Linked DNA regions of Homo sapiens: region 2 is linked to region 1. The links come from fine-mapping of genetic effects on gene expression. A gene starts in region 1. The other region holds a variant in brackets. All regions are shown on one strand. Distances are between the middles of the regions.

Evidence for each region.
Region 2: its variant is fine-mapped to the expression of DENND6B in whole blood (TOPMed, PIP above 0.99).

Annotation. Positions count from the first base shown.
Region 1 is chr22:50,324,225-50,329,696 of GRCh38, forward strand. DENND6B (DENN domain containing 6B) reads right to left here and starts at 2,788. Exons shown (of 20, transcript NM_001001794.4): 1 at 2,588-2,788. The coding sequence starts at 2,764. RefSeq lists a silencer at 2,537-3,176.
Region 2 is chr22:50,301,003-50,306,255 of GRCh38, forward strand. All of the region lies in intron 1 of PLXNB2 (plexin B2), which reads right to left. Among named protein-coding and RNA genes, the nearest start is that of PLXNB2, 4.0 kb to the right of the region's middle. RefSeq lists enhancers at 1-551, 4,298-5,253, 4,887-5,253 and a silencer at 689-738. The variant T/A (reference allele first, on the strand shown) is at 3,290.

The DNA.
Region 1 (5,472 bases):
ATGCTCCCATGCGTACAGTTGCGGGGGTATCCTGTGAGGGCTAAGGGGGAGTCCTGTGAGCACTATGGACTCTGAACCACTTACTCTCCATATCACTGGCACATAGTGTGAACTCCTAAAGGGCAAGAGCCTTGTCTACTCACTTACATGCTGGGCACCAGTATTGTGGGGCTGGGCTGGTGATAGCTGCTCAATGTGATCTACGGTTTTGTTTTTTGAGACAGAGTTTCACTCTTGTTGCCCAGGCTGGAGTGCCATGGCGCGATCTCGGCTCACCACAACCTCCGCCTCCTGGGTTCAAGCGATTTGCCTGCCTCAGCTTCCTGAGTAGCTGGGATTACAGGCGTGCGCCACCACGCCCGGCTAATTTTGTATTTTTAGTAGAGACAGGGTTTCTCTGTGTTGGTCAGGCTGGTCTCAAACTCCTGAACTCAGGTGATCTGTCCGCCTCGGCCTCCCAAAGTGCTAGGATTACAGGCGTGAGCCACCATGCCCAGCCTTCAAAGTGATTTACTGAATGAGTAACTGAATCACCAGCTCCTTGCCTTTTGCTTATGTTGGCATTTTGGGAGAGGGGTTACCTGAAACAGGACCCCCTCCCCTGTCTCTTCTCAGCATCCAAGACTTATTTACCTAAGCCCATTCCTTCCTCTGAGCTGCATGCATCCCAACTAGAGTCTTCCTTCCATATCGCAGAACCAAGCACAGTCCTGGGGCTTTGCAGTGCTTAGCTGGGCTGAGCTGTGACTGAGTTGCACAGTGGGTGCTCCCTAAGTCTGTAAGTGACTAAAACGACCTCGATCTTCCCTGTGACTTCCAGGTGAGGGAGGAAAGGCAAGAGTCATGTGCTCAGGCCCCGGTGGATCCACTGCCAGGTTTCTGCACAGACTCAGTGATCTGCAGGTGCCCAGATCATTGCTATGGAGGGTTTCGCTCATGGACCTGGGTCCCCAACACTCTGCCAGCTGACCATGCCCCTAGTCCGAGCTGAGCATCCCCAGCAAAAGCTCAGGAGTCCAAGCACACACAGCCTTCAACAGCTCAGAAATAACTTTCCGAATGGGTTTTAGAAAATAACACGAGAATGTCTTAAGGAACAGAGGAACCTCCTTTTTTTTTTTTTTTTTTTTTGAGATGGAGTCTCACTTTGTCGCCCAAGCTGGAGCGCAATGGTGCAATCTCTGCTCACTGCAACCTCCCCCTCCCGGGTTCAAGCCATTCTCCTCCTCAGTCTCCCGAGTAGCTAGGACTACAGGAGTGTGCCACCTCGCCCGGCTAATTTCTGTATTTTTAGTGGAGATGTGGTTTCACCATGTTGGCCAGGATGGTCTCAAACTGCTGACCTTGTGATCTGCCTGCCTCGGCCTCTCAAAGTGCTGGGATTACAGGCATGAGTCACCGCGTCCGGCCAGGAACCTCTTAACTTCTTTTGTGATTTTGTGGGGAACAATCTGGGCAACAGTATTGAACTAAGAAAGGTTTTCAACCCTGGGCAGGTCACCACACTTCTTGGTACTCAGCCCCCACCCAGTGATGCTGTTTGAGGCTGTGCACCTGCTGGGGACCGTGTGTGGTGGGAGGGGCTCCAGAGAGTGCTAGAGTTAATGCTTTTCTGTTTAGAAGACTATATGCTTCTCATGGCCTCTTGGAGTTCAGCAGGGCCTTAGAAAGCATCTCCCAACCACAGAGACGCGCTGCCTGGCTTTCCTGATGATGATGATTTGGCCTGATCTTGGACACCTGCGGTAATAGAGAGCTCACTACCCCTCACGAGGTTCCTTGCGCCAGCGCGGGGAAGCCTCCCTCCATCTGCAGGTGGGCCTCCCCTGTGCTGGTCAGCTCCCTGGTGTGTGTTACACAGGACACAGAGAAGATCATCCTGCGGGGCCTCCCTGGAGGAAAGGAGGCTGCCTGTGTGGGTAGGTGAGTGGAGGCCTGCAGGCAGCAGAAAGACCACATCGAAAGCCCATGGGCACAGCCGATGAACAGACCCCCACGAGCAAGAACACCACAAGACGCAGGTGGAGGGACGGGGCCCATGGGGTCTGGATCTGATGCTAGGTGAACAAGGAGGCGCTGCAGGGTTTTAAGCAGGAGAGCCACAAAGGTTGAACTCTGGGGTGCAGCTGGGGTGGGGATGACATCAGTGATGGCAGCAAAGGAACGGATCCGAGACCTTTGTTGCAGAAGGAGCCGTCAGCCTCGCCTATGCCCAGAGATGGGATGCGGAGCGGAGGGTAAGCCCGGGACTCTGGCGGGAGCCACTGAGGGGATGAAGGTGTCACTGCTCCGGTGGGGAATGGAGGGGGGAGATGTGAGACATTTACTGGGAAAAATCGAAAGAGTACCACTTAGGTTATGCAAAATGCTCCATCCCAATGTGAAGACAAGATCCGACTCCGAGCAGCTCGCCTTCCCTCCTCGGCCTGGGGAGCGCTTCTGGAGCCCGGAGAAGAGGCCCCTCCAGGAGGCGGCGGCCGAAGGCCAGGGAGAGTGCGGGGCGGCCGAGGGCCCCAAGCGAGGCGGGACTGGCCCCGAGAGGCGCAGCCCTGCCCACCCGCCCGCGCCCGCGCTCGCGCCCGCTCACCTCCAGCGCCTGGCCCAGCTCCAGGTCGAAGGTGACCACGCACACACACTCCAGCCAGGCGGAGAAGCGCGCCCAGGGCGCCGCCGGGGTCCGCGCCGCGCGACCTGAAGACGTGGGTCCAGCCGCGCCCAGGCAGCCGCGAGCCCGGCGAGGCCCTGTGCCCAACAGCGCGTCCATGGCGGCGGCCGCGGGTTGCCGGGGAAACGCGGGCGGGGGCGGCGCGCGTCCGGGCCGCTCCTCAGAACAGTCGAGCGGCCGCCGCGGCCCAGTGCGGCTCCCGCGCGGCCGCGCGCCCCCTAGCGCCCGAGAAGCGCCAGCGGCCGGGCGCCGCCCAGGGCACCAGCGAGCCGGACGCGCGCGGGCCAGAGCGGCCGGAGCCCACTGGGGGACTTCCGGGGAAGCGGCCGAACTGGGGCCTTCCAGGGTCCACGCCGTCTGAGGCCCGAGAGAGTCGGTTCGGCCCCGGTGTTCGCGGATCCCGGCTCGCGGGAGCCTCGGGGCCAGGCCAGGGAGGCAGAGCAAGCTGCAGCCAGCCGGCGCCGGGCTCGTCGGGCTTCGCAGGTCCGGCCAGCCTACCTCGCCCCACCGCGCAGGGGCCAGCGGCGTCGCGGGCGTTTTCGTGGCGGAATGGCGTCCTCACTGAGCGCCCAGCCACCACCGCGGACTCGCGCTCGCTTCCTCTGGGGCCCGCGCGGCCTGGGGTCGTGTCTGACCGCGGGTGTCCACGCAACACCTCTGCAGTTTCACTTTCCGGGGGAATCGCGGGGACCTGGAGCGAACTCTTCCCTCCCTCGCGAGGGCCCCGGGCCCCGCTGTGGTCCACAGAGCACCTTGAGGCCCGGCGTGGAAGGGCGAGTTTGGGGCTGTCGGTAACTTAATGAGGCACGCCTTTGAGTCGTGGGCCTCATGACGTTTCCGTGGAAGGCGGGCCGCATATACTGTGGTGGTCCCTTCAGATTACCACGTGTTGGCCAGACGCGGTGGCTCACGCCTGTAATCTCACCGCTTTGGGAGGCCGAGGTGGGGTGGCGGATCACGAATCCAGGAAATCGAGACCAACCTGGTGAAACCCTGTCTCTACTGAAAATACAAAAATTAGCCGGGCGTGGTGGCTGGCGAGCGCCGTAACCCCAGCTATTGGGGAGGCTGAGGCAGGAGAATCGTTTGAACCCCGGAGGCGAAGCTTGCAGTGAGCTGAGATGTCGCCATTGCACTCCAGCCTGGGCGACAGAGTGAGACTCCATCTCAAAAATAAAAAAATAAAAGATTACCACGTGTTGTTCGGATCATCTGGCCTAGGTGTGGGGTAGGCTGTCCCATCTAGGTTTGTCACATAACAAAATCGCCTAATGACACATTTCTCAGGACATAGCTTCACCGTTGAGTAGCACATGGCCGTATTGTTTTTTGTTTGTTTGTTTCTGTTGTTTTTTTTGAGACAGAATGTTGCTCTTGTTGCCCAGGCAGGAGTGCAATGGCATGGTCTTGGCTCACTGCAACCTCTGCCTACTGGGTTCGAGCGATTCTCCTGCCTCAGCCTCCCGAGTAGCTGGAATTACAGGCGTGCACCACCACGCCAGGCTAATTTCTGTATTTTTGGTAGAAACGGTTTCACCATTTTGGCCAGGCTGGTCTCGAACTCCTGAGCTCAGGTGATCTGCCCGCCTCGGCCTCCCAAAGTGTTGAGATTACAGGCGTGAGCCACTATGCCAGGCCCGACTGTATAGCTTTTATTTTTATTTTTAGAGGAAAGGTCTCACTCTCTCCCAGGATGGAGTGCAGTGGCCCATTGCAGCTCACTGCAGCCTCGATCTCCTGGCTCAAGCTATCCTGCCACTCAGTCTCCTAGGTAGCTGAGGCTACAGGCACACGCCGCCATACCCCATTATTTTTTTATTTTTATTTTTTGTTCGTTTTTGTGGAGATGGGGTCTCGTGCTGCCTGGGCTCATTTTCATTTCTCTTGGGCGTGCATAGAAACCAAATTGCTGAGGCATAACCTGGGTATATGTTTAGCTTTCCCCAAAGCAGCCATACATTTAAAAACATTCCTACCAGGCCAGGCGAGGTGGCTCATGCCTGTAATCCCAGCACTTTGGGAGGCTGAGGCTAGTGGATCACCTGAGGTCAGGAGTTTGAGACCAACCTGGCCGACATGGTGAAAACCTGTCTCTACTAAAAAATACAAAAATTAGCCAGGCATGGTGGCGGTCACCTGTGATCCTAGCTACTCAGGAGGCTAAGGCATGAGATCGCTTGAACCTGGGAGGTGGAGGTTGCAGTGAGCCGAGATCAAGCCACTGCACTCCAGCCTGTGTGACAGAGCGAGACTTTGTCTCAAAAAAAGATAAAAAAAGAAAATGGAAACATTCCTACCAACAGTTTATGTTTCCTTTGCTCCACATCCTTCCCAACATTTGGTGTTGCCAAGCGTCTTCATTGTAGCCAGCCAATGAGTGGGTAGTGGTATCTTGTGATTTTTAAAATTTTGTTTATTTTATAGAGAAGAGATCTCATCCTATCACCCAGGCTGAAGTTCAGTGATGTCATCATAGCTCACTGCAGCCTGGAACTCCTGGGCTCAAGGGATCCTCCTTCATTGGCCTCCCAAGTAGCTGTAACTACAGGCATGTGCCACCGTGCCTGGGTATTCTTGTGGTTTTGATTTGCATTTCCCTGATTACTAATGGTCTTGAGCATTTTTTTCCCCTGTGGTTATTGCATGCCATCATTGTAAGATGTACTCTGATTTTGAGGTAGGAGGCAGAACTTTATTCCAGACCAGATTAAAGACTGGCTGAAGGCCGGGCGCGGTGGCTCACGCCTGTAATCCTAACACTTTGGGAGGCCGAAAAGGCGAGCAGATCAGCAGATCGAGACCATCCT
Region 2 (5,253 bases), 23 kb before region 1:
CTGCACCAAGTGCAGCCCCTGTATATGGTGCGTCCCTAGACTGGGGCCCCAGGCTGCCCTCCCATCCTACACACAGTTGTGAGGCCCTCCTCAGCCTCCTCTCTGGCCACGGCCCACTGGCGCATCTGGAGGATGGTCCTCCCCAGCCCTCAGACAGAAGGTGGGATCCAGTTGGCTACGGCGCCCTGTCCCCACACGCACCAGGCCTGCAGAACCACCTCTCTCCTCAACCACCCCTTTCGGGGTCCCAGACCCCATCCTGTCCAACCTGGGCACAGCTGCAGCCCCCTCTTGCTACACCGTGGTCCTTCGGGTCAGAAAGCTGGGCAGCGCAATGAACCTACCGATGTCTCCGTGCTTCCTGAGGACCTCCTGTGGGAGGGGTGGGCACCGCCAGGCGCTCGGGGCACACGAGGCCGATGGCTACAGCAGGAACCACCAACTCATCAGGACAGGACATGCGGTCAGACAGCAGGCGGCCACGGAGGGACTCTCGTGGGATTCTGGGGCTCAGTCACTTGGAGTCTCTCCTGAAAGGAGGCCTCCCGGCCCGCCGGTGCCCAGCCCCACCTGCAGGCTCTCCTCTGAGTGGCCCCCACGCATCTCCCCCTTTCCAGCTCAACCCCGCAGCAGCCGGCTGCTCAGAGACCAGGTCCTGCCTGGATGCAGCTGGCTCAAGACCAGCCCCCGCCCACAGCCCCCTTCTCACCCCCGGGGTGGGCGTTGGGGGGTGGACGGGTGAGGCCCCAGCCAGTGAGCAGTAAGCAAGGCCTGTAATCTCCCCGTCAGCCTGTCAGCGCCTCAGCGGTCACCCCAGCCCCGCCTCGCCCATCACCGCTGAACCCCACAATTAGCTTGGGGCACCGCGCCAAGCCTGTGTGCCAGACACCACTTGCACACATGACCACACATGTGCAGACACACATGGCTGGGTGCTGCCGGAAAAGCCCTGCCAACAGGGTCTCACCCCAACACCCAGAACTCGTCCCCAGTACAAAGAGCCTGGGAGAGAAGCCTCAGGCCGGGGCACTTGGGCTAAGAGGGGCAGTGGGGCTCTCAGAACCCAGCGCTGCCTGGAGCCCCGAGGGAGGGGCCATGTGTGGCATGGGGAAGTGGGGTGGGGGCAGGGCCGTCTCAGCAGGGGAGAGGGGCTGCGTCTGCCCAGGATGAGCTGGGGGCTGGTGAGGCACAGGGTGTTGGGCAGGACCTGGGTCCAGGCCAAGGGTGAGGCAGCCCAGGGTGTGGGCTGGGCCCCACAGGGGCAAACACTCAGGGCTTTGGGAGGCCAGAGGGACAGGGATTTCCCAGTGAGGAAATGCCCATCTCAGAGTGGGGGCAGGACAGTGAGTGGGAGGTGATGCCCGTGGCTGGAGCTGTGTGGGGAGGTGGGTGCCCCTGGAGGCCAGGTCCAGCCCCTTGCTCCACGCGGAGGCTTGCTCTGCTCATGGTGGAGCTGAGGACTTCAAACCCCACAGGGCCTGGTCGAGAGCCACTGGGCCCCAGGTCTAGATGTGGAACTGGGGGACCCTCCAGCGAGCTTTGCTGGGCCTGGGCGGCCTGCCTGGGGCGCCCCACCTTCACGCCCTCCTCCCTAACATCCTTTTCTCCTGAAGTCCCTCAGGGTGGTCACCAGATCAGGCTCGGTGCCAACATAGGAGTGGGGAGGCCAAGCCCCTCAGCTCCCCTGGCCAATCTCTGAGGCTGAGAGGGAGTGGGGGGGGCCATGCTGGAGCACCTCCCTCCCACCACCTGCCCCTTGCCCCTGTCAACTGCTGGCTCCACTTAAAATAGCTTCTCCCCCTCGCTGGTGGGAGGGAGGCCCTGGTGTCAAGCCGGTAAGGCTGGAGCAAGGCTGGGCACAGGGCCTGGGCTCAGCAGTGTTCTGTGCCCTCCATCTCCTCCAAAGCAGGCCCCAGCTCTGAAAACACACCTGACAGGGCTGGGATCCACAGAGTCCTCACCTCCTGCTGGTCCTCAAACCCCACTCTCCATGGCTGGGTCCCTGAAATACTTGGATTACCCTCAAGCCCCCCGCCATCCCCCCAAGCTGTGGCTCCCATGCCACCCTACCACGTCTGAGTCACACAGGCCCAGGCCTCCCTTGCTTCCCCCAGGAGAGACCCCCCCACACTCCTGCTTCTGGCCTGTCCTCAGAGCCCCAGAACTCACCTAGGTTCAAAGCCAGACCCCAGCTGAGGACAGAGCATGGACCCCAGGCAAATGCAGTGACAATCACAGAGCACGCTCCTACCACAGCCACCCACGCAGCCTGAGGCATAGCCCCCTGGAAACTGCCTCGGCCTTCAGCACCCCACTTTGGACCAGCAGGGCAGGGGGGTTCCTCCTCTGAGAAGTCCTCAAAGCTGCCTGGAAGGAGCAGACAGTGCCCCCAGACGCCAATCTGACAGGGGGCCCAATCTGTCTCTGAGCAGGTGGCATGCTGGCTCGGGGGCCCCAGACCACAACAGAAGGTCACCTGGGAAGAGAGCCGCAGCCCTACACAAGGCTCGTGGGCAGGAACCGTCCCAGCCACAGGAGCAGACGCCCTTGCCTGGCCCCTCAGGGGGCCGTGTTCACACAGGAGGCCTTCTCAGAGGTGGACACCAAGCACTTCTCTCTCTTGCGCTTGCTGCGGGACTCAGCTGGGGCAGCATCAGGCCCAGAAATCGGTGCTGGACACTGTGTCTCCACACAGGGCCCCCCATGGAAGCTGCTGACCAGCTGTGCCAGAGGGGCCGGGGCCCTACCCCCAGGAGCCCAGTCCCTGCCTCTGATGCTGCTGCTGCTGGGACCCTGCTGGCAGAGCTGGTGGCTGAACTGGGGCAGCACCTCCCTCTCCTGCCCCAGGCCTGGGCCGGGACTCAGCTGGCACTGGAATGAGGAACTATTGGCTTTCAGAAGCCAGGAGACCTTAGGGGGCTGAGGAAGAGAGCTGGACCTGCCCCCAGGCGCCCTGATCCCAGCCCAGGGCAGTCTCCTCCCTCACCTAGCCTGGGACATGAGGCAGCTCAGGTGTGGCCTTAGGGGCTACCCCCAGGGAAGGCCACCAACCATAGCGGGCCACGGTGTGGGCTGGCCTCTGGGTGTGAAGGGCTCCAGGATCTGGGCTGCAGAGGCGGGACTGTGCGAAACAGAACCCCCAGCTCCACAGCCAGGCCAGCCCCAGGCTCCTCCCCAGACAGACATCCCCGGGGGTGGGGCAAACCTGCAGTACCACCAGGGGCAGCCTGTCCCACCATCCCCGGCACCACTGGGCCTGGGGCCAGTCACTGTCACAGGTTCATGAATC[T/A]CACAGGGCAGGGTGGATCCACTGGGGGGGTGCGGGGTGCCAGTGTTCAGGGCCAGACGGGAGGGGCCCAGCCAATCCCTTCACACGCTTGGTCTTCAGAGAGAAGGCTTCTGAGCCAGGAGGGCCACTGTGTCAGGGCCTGGCTTGAGGCCACACCTGTGGCTGGGGGAGCCCAGAACAGTGCAGGGTCCTTCCCTGGTAGGCAGAGAAAGGCAGGGGTCCTTACAATCCAGGGGTATGGGAAGAAGCAGGCCCTGTGTCAAGGGATGTGAAACCACGGAAAGGAAGAAGGTGGAGGAACCTCGACCAGAAAGAGGGAAGCTAGGGCAGCTGCCTCCCCGGGGCCCCAGAGCCTGAGCACCCCCCACCAGCCAAGGCTCTGACCCACCCTCCCCATCGTGTAATTAGTCAGAGACCCAGCCCCACCCCACCCACAGCCCCACCCCAAACACAAACAGCCACTACCCCTGAGGGAGGGAGGGGCTGTGGCCAGTCCCAGCCCTACTGAATCTCCCACCCCCAGAGAACCTGGATCTGCCTCAGAGAAGGGAGGTCAAGGCTGGGGGGCCACTTGCTGGCCACTGGGTGAATTCTGAGCAGCTCACCACCTCATCCCCAAACCGTGTCCAAGGCAGGCTCTGGGCACAAGAGGTTCCCCGCCAACTTCCAAGGAGGGCGGCCAGGCTGCAGCCAGAGGGACGGAGGCATGAGCTGAGTGAGAACTCCCAGCTCAGGGGAAGGCAGCCCTCGTGGCAGAGGCCTGGCATCCAAGTGCCTGCCTAGCTCAGAGAAGGCACAATATGAGGGGCCGGAAGACACAGCCTCTCCCAGCCAGTGCACCCCTGCCCACGCCCGCGTCCCAGGGGGACCATCAGCTGTGGCTGGCACAGGGTGAGGCAGGGGGCAGGACACGGTGAGCACGGACGACGTCCTGGGATGGGAGGAGGACTGTGCCATATGGGCCCTCCCCACCACCTTCCAATCCAATCTCTTCTGCTCCACTTCCCTGGGCCGGGTCCAAGGCTCTGGGCTTTCTGCACTTGGGGCCAGCTGCCGGCTCCTCCTCCCCGATGTGGTCCCCATGCAGGCCGCCGGGCACACACCCCGGGCGCACACACAGCATGGACCCAGAGCGCCAGGTAGCCACAGCCCTGGCCACACAGCATCGCAGATGACTCCTCACATAGACCTATCTCTGGCCTCAGTCTCCCCACCTGCAGGATGGGCTCACAGGCGCCATATCCAGAGGGGGTCGTAGGCAAGGACTGGCTGTCGGAGGGGCTTGGAGGGAGGCTGGTCCGTTAGTCAGGAGCTGAATAGGGAGTCCGTTGGGGCAGGAGGGCCCCCTGAGGGAAACCCCAGTGCCCTCCCTAGCAGCCTAGCCTCGCTCCTGCCTGCTCCTCCCTGGCACGCACAGGTCACTGGCACAGGGTGTGTCCCTGAACTTGGGCCTGGAGGGTACCTCAGAGGCTCTTCAGACCACCATTGAGACTTCTCGGGGCGAGGGGGTCCCTGGGTGGGGCGAGGGGGTCCCTGGGTGGGCCCAGAGCTCCTCCTGTTCCATGGTCTCCCCCAGAGGGGCTTGGGCCCACTGCAGGCTCAGCAGGGCCTGCTGGGGCCAACCTTGGGGCTTTCTCCAACCCAAAGGTGACGCATCTTCTCCCCGCCCAGTCTGGGCAGCTGCAGTAGAAAGTGGCAGAGCTGCCCGGACTTGCCCGTCCTCCTCCTGGGGCCCTCAACCCACGTCCCGGAAGTGGATCCTTCTCCCACGCTGCAGCCTCCCGCTTCGGGTGACTGGACACGGCTGGATGATCCAAAATAATTCTTTCTTGGCAGGCAGCCGGTGGGGGAGGGGGACTCACATTCCAAACCCTTGTTTTTCTCAGTAACTTCCCTCCTCTACTGGGGCAAGGAACCCCTGGCCAGACCTCAGGCCTCCCAGACCCCCCGGGACAGAGGTGGGC